3 separate regions of the Homo sapiens genome follow, and all the other regions are linked to region 3. The links come from fine-mapping of genetic effects on plasma protein levels. A gene starts in region 3. Each other region holds a variant in brackets. All regions are shown on one strand. Distances are from middle to middle.

Region 1 (2,758 bases), 300 kb before region 3:
TTTGTATTTTTAGTACAGACAGGGTTTCACCATGTTAGCCAGGATGGTCTCGATCTGCTGACCTCGTGATCCGCCCACCTCGGCCTCCCAAAGTGCTGCAATTACAGGCATGAGCCACCGCACCTGGTTGCTAATTTTTGTATTTTTAATAGAGACGGGGTTTCACCATGTTGGCCAGGACACACAGTATTTTTTTAACTGGTTTGAATCACTTCCTTAGGACAGATTCCTTGAAGTGGAATTACTGTTCACAATACAAATTCAGGATTTACTCATTCCACAAATACTGAGCAAGACTGACTCCATACCAGGAACTGCACCTGGGCACGAGGCCAGTGCCGTGAGTGGGACAGATGTAGACTGGCCCTCAGGGACTCACTGTCTAGTACTGAGTTGCACTTGGCTCTCCAAGATGGCAGTTTTACCAGATTCAAGCTACATCTATGAATTTCTCTTAGAAAGCCTTCTTATTTACTGAATAAGGTCTGGCCTTGGGGAGCTTTATTATTATTATTATTATTTTTGAGATGGAGTCTCGCTCTGTCGCCCAGGCTGGAGTGCAGTGGCATGATCTCGGCTCACTGCAAGCTCCACCTCCCGGGTTCACGCCATTCTCCTGCCTCAGCCTCCTGAGTAGCTGGGACTACAGGCAACTGCCACCATACCCAGCTAATTTTTTCTATTTTTTAGTAGAGACGGGGTTTCACTGTGTTAGCCAGGATGGTCTCGATCTCCTGACCTCATGATCCGCCTGCCTTGGCCTCCCAAAGTGCTGGGATTACAGGTGTGATTCACCGCGCCCAGCTGGGGAGCTTTATTATTAAACATAAGCACAAGGAAGGCTGTATGCAGCTTGGTGAAGGAGAGGTAGACACACAAGGAGAGGATTTTTTTTCTTTTTGAGACAGTCTTGCTCTGTCGCCCAGGCTTGAGTGCAGTGGCGCGATCTCGGCTCACTGAAAGCTCCGCCGCCTCCTGGGTTCACGCCATTTTCCTGCCTCAGCCTCCTGAGTAGCTGGGACTACAGGCGCCTGCCACCATGCCCAGCTAATTTTTTGTATTTTTAGTAGAGACAGGGTTTCACCGTGTTAGCCAGGATGGTCTCGATCTCCTGACCTTGTGATCCGCCCGCCTCAGCCTCCCAAAGTGCTGGGATTACAGGCATGAGCCACCGTGTCCAGCCAAGGAGAGGACGTTTTTAAGGCCTAGGCTCCTCACATACATTCACATCTTAGATTTAACCGAAACAATCCCATGAGAAAGGGGCTACTAGTCCA[C/T]GGAGAAGAACAGGATTGTTACTAGCTCATGACTGCAAATTTTATTGGTGGTAGCGCCAAAACTAAGACGTTGTTTTACACTCCTGAGATCAGAAAATACCTAAGTCTCAATTTAGAAGCCAAGTTCAAGATAGATTCAGATCTTCAAGAGATTAAAGAAAAAGTTACCATATCACCCTGCAATTTTATTCCTAGGTATACACTGAAGAGAAATGAAAACACTAAGTCCACACAAAAACCTTGTACAGGAACGTTCATGGTAGCATTATTCACAACAGCCAAAAGATAGAAACAACGCAAATGTCCATCAAAAGCTGGGTGTGGGTTGGGTGCGGTGGCTTATGCCTGTAATCCCAGCATTTTGGAAGGCCAAGACGGGTGGATCACTTGAGGCCAGGAGTTCGAGACCAGCCTGGCCAACATGGCAAAACCCTATCTCTGCTAAAAATACAAGGCGTGGTGGTCTATATGTGTAGTCCCAGCTACTCAGAAGGCTTAGGCACAAAAACTGCTTAAACCTGCGGGGTGGGGGTTGCAGTGAGCCAAGATCGCACCACTGCACTCCAGCCTGGGCAACAGAGCGAGATTTTGTCTAAAAAAAAAAAAGCTATGCCTTTGCCTCCCTAAGTACTGGGCTTACAGAACGGGGGCTCGTGCCTGCAAGCCAAGCACTTAGGGAAACAAAGGTATAGCTTGAGCCCAGGAATTGGAGACCTGCCTGGGCAACATAGGGAGACCCTGTTCTCCACAAAAAGGGGAGAAAAAGACCAAAAAAAAAAAAAAAAAAAAAGACAAATGGAATTCAAGTGTTCATCAATGAATGAATGGAGAAACAAAATGTGGTCTATACATATAATGGAATATTATTCAGTCTTAAAAAGGAATAGGCCAGGCACAGTGGCTCATACCTGTAATCCCAGCACTTTGGGAGGCCGAGGTGGGCGGGTCACAAGGTCAGGAGATTGAGACCATCTTGGTCAACATGGTGAAACCCCATCTCTACTAAAATGCAAAAAATTAGCCAGGCGTGGTGGAGCGTGCCTGTAGGCGCGCGCCTGTAGTCCCAGCTACTCGGGAGGCTGAGGTAGGGGAATTGCTTGAACCTAGGAAGCGGAGGTTGCAGTGAGCCGAGATCGTGCCACTGCACTCCAGCCTGATGACGGAGCAAGACTCCATCTCAAAAAAATTCTAAAAAAAAAAAAAATTCTGTTAAAAAAAAAAAAGGAATGAAAGTCTGACATATGCTACAACATAGATGAACACTGAAGATGTATATACTAAGTCAAATAAGCCAGACACAAAAGGACAAACATTGTATGATTCCACCAACAGGAGGTATCTAGAGTGTCCAAACTCAAAGAGACAGAAAATAGAATGGTGGTTCCCAGACTGGGGTAGGAGGAATTGGGGAGTTACTGTTTAATAAGTATAGAGTTTCTGTTTGGGAAGATGAAAAAGTTTTGGAGATGGATGGTGGTGAT
Region 2 (2,758 bases), 44 kb after region 3:
CCTGTAATCCCAACACTTTGGGAGGCCGAGGTGGGCGGATCACGGGGTCAGGAGATCAAGACCATCCGGGGTAACACGATGAAACCCCATCTCTATAAAAATCCAAAAATTAGCTGGGCGTGGTGGTGCATGCCTGTAGTCCCAGCTACTCGGGAGGCTGAGGCAGGAGAATCGCTTGAACCCGGGAGGTGGAGGTTGCAGTGAGCCGAGATCACGTCACTACACTCCAGCCTGGGCAGCAGAGCTAGACTCCATCTCAAAAAAAAAAAAAAAATTCATTTGTTTGAGGAATGTTTTTGGAGGACCTACTATGGAAAGGGCAAAGCTCTGATATGAAATATTTGAGATTCATGGGTATACTGTGTCCAGATACCACTAAAACATCCTAAACACACTTTATTAAGATGTTGAGCCTGTGACTCAGTACTCAAGAATTTTCTTTTTCCTTAGTGCTTCTCAAAGGTTAGACTGGTGACTCAAGAGTTGACTCTGTTCACTACAGAGGTTGCATCATGCATCTCTTTCAGCAGGGCTTGTAATCCTGCGGCAACATTGACCCTTCTTTGGCTTGCATCAGTCCAGCATTAAGATAGAAATCATCATTTGACCACATTACAGCTTCTTTCATTTCAATCAAATGTTTTTATAGTGCAGTCCATTTCCATTAAAAAAAAAAACTCTCCATTTCAGCCTTATCCTTGATTAACAGAGTAACGTTTTGTAACTCTCCTTTTTGTAAAATTTAGAAAAGCGATACATGGCTAACTTCCAAAGGGAATTGAATATATTGTGGTTTCATCTTTTTAAAACCAGACATTTTACATACATTTTCTAGTATATTCCAAAGCACAGTCACTTACGAATAGGAAAGTACATGGTCAAAACTAGCTTGCTGAACATTAAATGCCAAAAATAATATCCAGGTCAAGTTATCAATACTTAACTGTTAGACACTGTGCTAAAGACGTACGTGCATTATCTCTTTTTATCTTTAAGAAAGCAGTTTTTTGTAATCCCAGTATTTTGGGAGGCCGAGGTGGGCGGATCACGAGGTCAAGAGATCGAGACCATCCCGGCCAACATGGTGCCCAGTCTCTACTAAAAATACAAAAATCAGTTGGGTGTAGTGGCGCGCGCCTATAGTCCCAGCTACTGCTACTCAGAGGATGAGGCAGGAAAATCGCTTGAACCTGGGAGGCGGAGGTTCAGTGAGCTGAGATCGCACCACTGCACTCCAGCCTGGCCACAGAACGAGACTCTGTCTCAAAACAAAAACAAAAACAAAAACAAAAAGAAACAAACAAAAAAGCATTTTTTTCTTACCCCTATTTTAGAGTGAAGGAATCTGAAGCCCCAAGAGGTAAAGAAACTTGCCCAGGAGATTGCACACCTAAGATAATGAGCCAGTATTTGAGCCTTGGCAGTTTGATTTTTAACCTCTATAGGTTGTCATCTTGAGCTTCAGATTTATAAGACTTAATTTTGGGTTTCGGCATGGTGGCTCAGATGTGTAATCCCAGCACTTTGGGAGGCCAAGGTGGGTGAATCACTTGAGGTCAGGAGTTCGAGACCAGCCTGGCCAACAGGGCAAAACTCCATCTCTAATAAAAATACAAAATTTGCTGGGCATGGTAGCACACGC[C/G]TGTAATCCCAGCTACTCGAGAGGCTGAGGCATGAGAACCACTCGAACCTGGGAGGCGAAAGTCACAGTGAGCCAAGATCGCACCACTGCACTCCAGCCTGGGCAACAGGGTGAGACTGTCTAAAAAGAAAAAAAAAAAACCTTACATTTTGTTTTAGGATATAGAGTAGTCACATATTTTGGGTTTTAAATTTAAAGTTTATAATTTTCATAGATATGGGGTCTAGCTACATTAACCAGGTTGGTCTCAAACTCCTGGCCTCAAGCAATCCTCCCACTTCAGCCTTCCAAAGTGTGGGAATTACAGGAATGAGCCACCACATCCAGCTCCAGTTACACATTTTGTAAATATTTTGATAACAGATGATATGCAAATATAAATTTTTATCCAGAAATTTAAACCAGCCCATTTCACTTGTGCTCCTATGGGTAAGAAAATTGCTTTCCAGGCTGGGCCTGGTGGCTCACACCTGTAATCCCAGCACTATGGGAGGCCGAGGCAGGCGGATAACCTGAGGTCGGGAGTTCGAGACCAGCCTGGTCAAAATGGAAAACCCCGTCTCTACTAAAAATACAAAATTAGCCCAGCGTGGTGGCTCATGCCTGTAATCCCAGCTACTCGAGAGGCTGAGGCAGGAGAATCACTTGAACCCGGGAGGCGGAGGTTGAGGTGAGCTGAGATCATGCCATTGCACTGCAGCCTGGGCAACAAGAGCGAAACTCTCTCTCAAAAAAAAAAAAAATTGCTTTCCATTTCCTACCTGATCTCAGAAAGCTAATTAAGCAGAGGTAAGACTTATTAGGATTGGATGTCATTTAGCTCTTAAATCTTCTTTTGTGGCCATGCGCGGTGGCTCACGCCTGTAATCCCAGCACTTTGGGAGGCCCAGGCGGGTGGATCACGAGATCAGGAGATCGAGACCATCCTGGCTAACACGGTGAAACCCCGTCTCTACTAAAAATACAAAAAATTAGCCGGGCACGGTGGCGGGCGCATGTAGTCCCAGCTACTCAGGAGGCTGAGGCAGGAGAATGGTGTGAACCCAGGAGGTGGAGCTTGCAGTGAGCTGAGATTGCGCCACTGCACTCTAGCCTGGGCGACAGAGCGAAACTCTG
Region 3 (2,758 bases):
CGCCTAGCTAATTTTTGTGTTTTTAGTTGGGGGGGGGGGCGGGGGCGTTCACCATGTAGGCCAGGCTGGTCTCGAACTCCTGACCTCGTGATCCGCCCGCCTCGGCCTCCCAAAGTGCTGGACTTATAGGCGTGAGCCACCGCGCCCAGCCTATGATAGAAATCTTATTAGCTCCATGGTTACAAACAGACAACCCTGAGGCCTGGAGGAAAGTAACTTCAGAACAGATACTCTCCTGGCTGAACTTTATATTTATTGCACTCTTGGCAGTCGTCCCTAGTTGTCTTTTTCTTTGATCTCTCTCTAGTTAAGACTTGCTCCTGGAGGCAAAGCGTGGTGGTGTCTGGCTCAGCATAGCACCTGCCATAATTACAAATGGCAATTATGGAATGAATCAGCTGTTTAAAGCACCAAATCTTGAGCTGGCCCGAAGACTGCGCAGGAGGATTGCATGCTCAACTCTCCCCTTTAGAAACTGTTAACAATCGTTGTGGCCGGGCGCGGTGGCTCACGCCTGTAATCCCAGCACTTTGGGAGGCCGAGGCGGGTGGATCATGAGGTCAGGAGATCGAGACCATCCTGGCTAACAAGGTGAAACCCCGTCTCTACTAAAAATACAAAAAAAATTAGCCGGGCGCGGTGGCGGGCGCCTGTAGTCCCAGCTACTCGGGAGGCTGAGGCAGGAGAATGGCGTGAACCCGGGAAGCGGAGCTTGCAGTGAGCCGAGATTGCGCCACTGCAGTCCGCAGTCCCGCCTGGGCGACAGAGCGAGACTCCGTCTCAAAAAAAAAAAAAAAAAACAATCGTTGTAACTGGAAATGTAACTGTTATACCCTCCCCCCCTTTTATTTATTTATTTTTTTGAGAGGGAGTTTTTGCGCTGTTGCCCAAGCTGGAGTGTGGTGGCGCCCAGCCCTGTTAGCCCCTTACAGAGTAGATCAGCTGCCGCAGGCATCTGAGTTCCCCAAACGGACGCCCGAACCCGGCATTGCGCAAATCGTTTCCAAGTAGCCCCGGCTTATTTATCCCGTCCGGGAGGGAGGGACCCAGGGAAGGCCCACCCCACTTGGTTCCCGAGAAATGCAGAGCCTGGCGTCCACTCCCGGTCTGGGGGACCCCTCCACCGCCAGCCCAGGAAGTCAGCGCCGGGCCCTCGGGGCGGAGCAGGGAAGAGGGAGCGGTTGGCCCGGACGCTCTTCCGGGTCCTGGGAGGAGGGCCCGGACCTAAGCCCCGCCCCTCCGGGGTGGAGTCACGGCTCGCGACTGGCCTAAGTCGCCGCAGGTATTGCAGTCCGGGGCTGGAGGGTAGGGGCGAGGGTCCCCGGATACCGGGTCTATCACGGTCTCGGGCAGGGAGTCTGAATCTTTTAGGGGAGTGGGCCCAAGCCGGGTGCAAAGAACGGGGAAGGGCCTTCCCTGGCTCCGTCCCGGCCACTTTGACCGAATCAGCCTGTTCTTTCCCGACCCCGTCTCCTATCCCCTAGAACTGCCACGTGGGGATGAGATTTGCTGGGCTGGTAGCGGCGGCTGCTGCGGGAGGTCCCGCCCACGTGAAGCCAGCCTAACTGAGCTCTGGACTTTGGGGACAGCTGTCAGTGGCCTAGGCCGCAGGTGAGATTTATCCATTCATCTCTCAATCTATTTTCTTTCTTCATTCACTAGCCACTCCCCCACTTCTACTCCATGCCAGGTCCATTGGTAGGTTCTCGGAATGGATCTGACAGGCCCAGCCCTCTAGGAACTTAGTCTAGTGGAATTTAATCTAGAATCTAGTCTAGAAGCCTTAAATAGATAAACATTCCAAATGATTCCTGCAATGGTGATGGCTAATACCTTCAGAGCCCAGTGGGTGGAAGAAGGAAGTAACTTGGATGTGGGTGGAAGAGAAAAGGGCAAATCAGGGAAGGTTTCACCAGGGAAGGGACTTTTGAACTGGGCTTTGAAGGTTAACTAGGAGTTTGCAAATTTCCCAGAAGGGAAGCGACATTCCAAATAGGGGAAGCAGAACAGGCTGCAAAATTATGAAAAGGCCTGCCATATTACAAGAACAGCAAAAAAACCAATAATGCAAGAGATTGTGGAGGTGAGTTCACGGGAAAAAAGCTCAACAGCAGAAGGCCTTACTTTCTATGCTATGTTGAGGCCAAGATTTATCCCAGAGCTCAGTATTTCTCAGCTTCTTTAAATATTTTGTCCTTTGAGCGGAGAGCAGTGGCTCACACCTGTAATCCCAGCTTTTTAGGAGGCTGAGGTGGAAGAATTGCCTGAGGCTAGGAGTTCGAGACCAGCCTGGACAACAAAGCGAAACCTCCATTTCTATTTTTTTTTCTTTTTTTGAGGAGGAGTCTTGCTCTGTCGCCAGGCTGGAGTGCAAGTGGCGCAATTTCGGCTCACTGCAACCTCCGCCTCTTGGGTTCAAGCAATTCTCACGCCTCAGCCTCCTGAGTAGCTGGGACTACAGGCGTGGGCCACAACGCCCAGCTAATTTTTTTTGTATTTTTAGTAAAGACAGGGTTTCACCATGTTGGCCAGGATGGTATCGATCTGACCTCATGATCCGCCTGCCTCGGCCTCCCAAAGTGCTGGGATTACAGGCGTGAGCCACTGCTCCCAGCCCCGTTTCTATTTTTAATTAAAAAATAAATAAATGGCCGGGCTCAGTGGCTCACGCCTGTAATCCCAGCACTTTGGGAGGCCGAGGCGAGCCAAGTTCAAGACCAGCCTGGCGAACATAGTGAAACCCCATCCCTACGAAAAA

Which allele goes with the higher level. Positions count from the first base shown, and alleles are read on the strand shown. Strength reflects both the effect of a copy and how common the allele is.
For the plasma level of the protein whose gene starts at base 1,247 in region 3, T is the low allele of the variant in region 1 and C is the other (weak association).
For the plasma level of the protein whose gene starts at base 1,247 in region 3, allele G in region 2 goes with a lower level than allele C (weak association).

What was found. A credible set is the group of variants that fine-mapping cannot tell apart. PIP is the chance, under the fine-mapping model, that this variant and not a neighbour inherited with it causes the effect. The UK Biobank Pharma Proteomics Project read protein levels with antibody pairs (Olink). The fine-mapping took linkage between variants from a reference panel, not from the people measured, so its PIPs are less certain.
Region 1: its variant is the best candidate, but not a certain one, in a credible set for the plasma level of the RABEPK protein (UK Biobank, PIP 0.67).
Region 2: its variant is the best candidate, but not a certain one, in a credible set for the plasma level of the RABEPK protein (UK Biobank, PIP 0.85).

Annotation. Positions count from the first base shown.
Region 1 is chr9:124,901,606-124,904,363 of GRCh38, forward strand. All of the region lies in intron 12 of GOLGA1 (golgin A1), which reads right to left. Among named protein-coding and RNA genes, the nearest start is that of GOLGA1, 38 kb to the right of the region's middle. RefSeq lists an enhancer at 1,755-2,255. The variant C/T (reference allele first, on the strand shown) is at 1,278.
Region 2 is chr9:125,242,965-125,245,722 of GRCh38, forward strand. All of the region lies in intron 1 of HSPA5-DT (HSPA5 divergent transcript), which reads left to right. Among named protein-coding and RNA genes, the nearest start is that of HSPA5-DT, 2.7 kb to the left of the region's middle. The variant C/G (reference allele first, on the strand shown) is at 1,643.
Region 3 is chr9:125,199,296-125,202,053 of GRCh38, forward strand. It overlaps RABEPK (Rab9 effector protein with kelch motifs), which reads left to right and starts at 1,247. Exons shown (of 8, transcript NM_005833.4): 1 at 1,247-1,611. LOC105376271 (a long non-coding RNA gene) reads right to left here and starts at 1,101. Exons shown (of 2, transcript NR_135145.1): 1 at 931-1,101; 2 at 238-360. RefSeq lists a silencer at 1,125-1,174.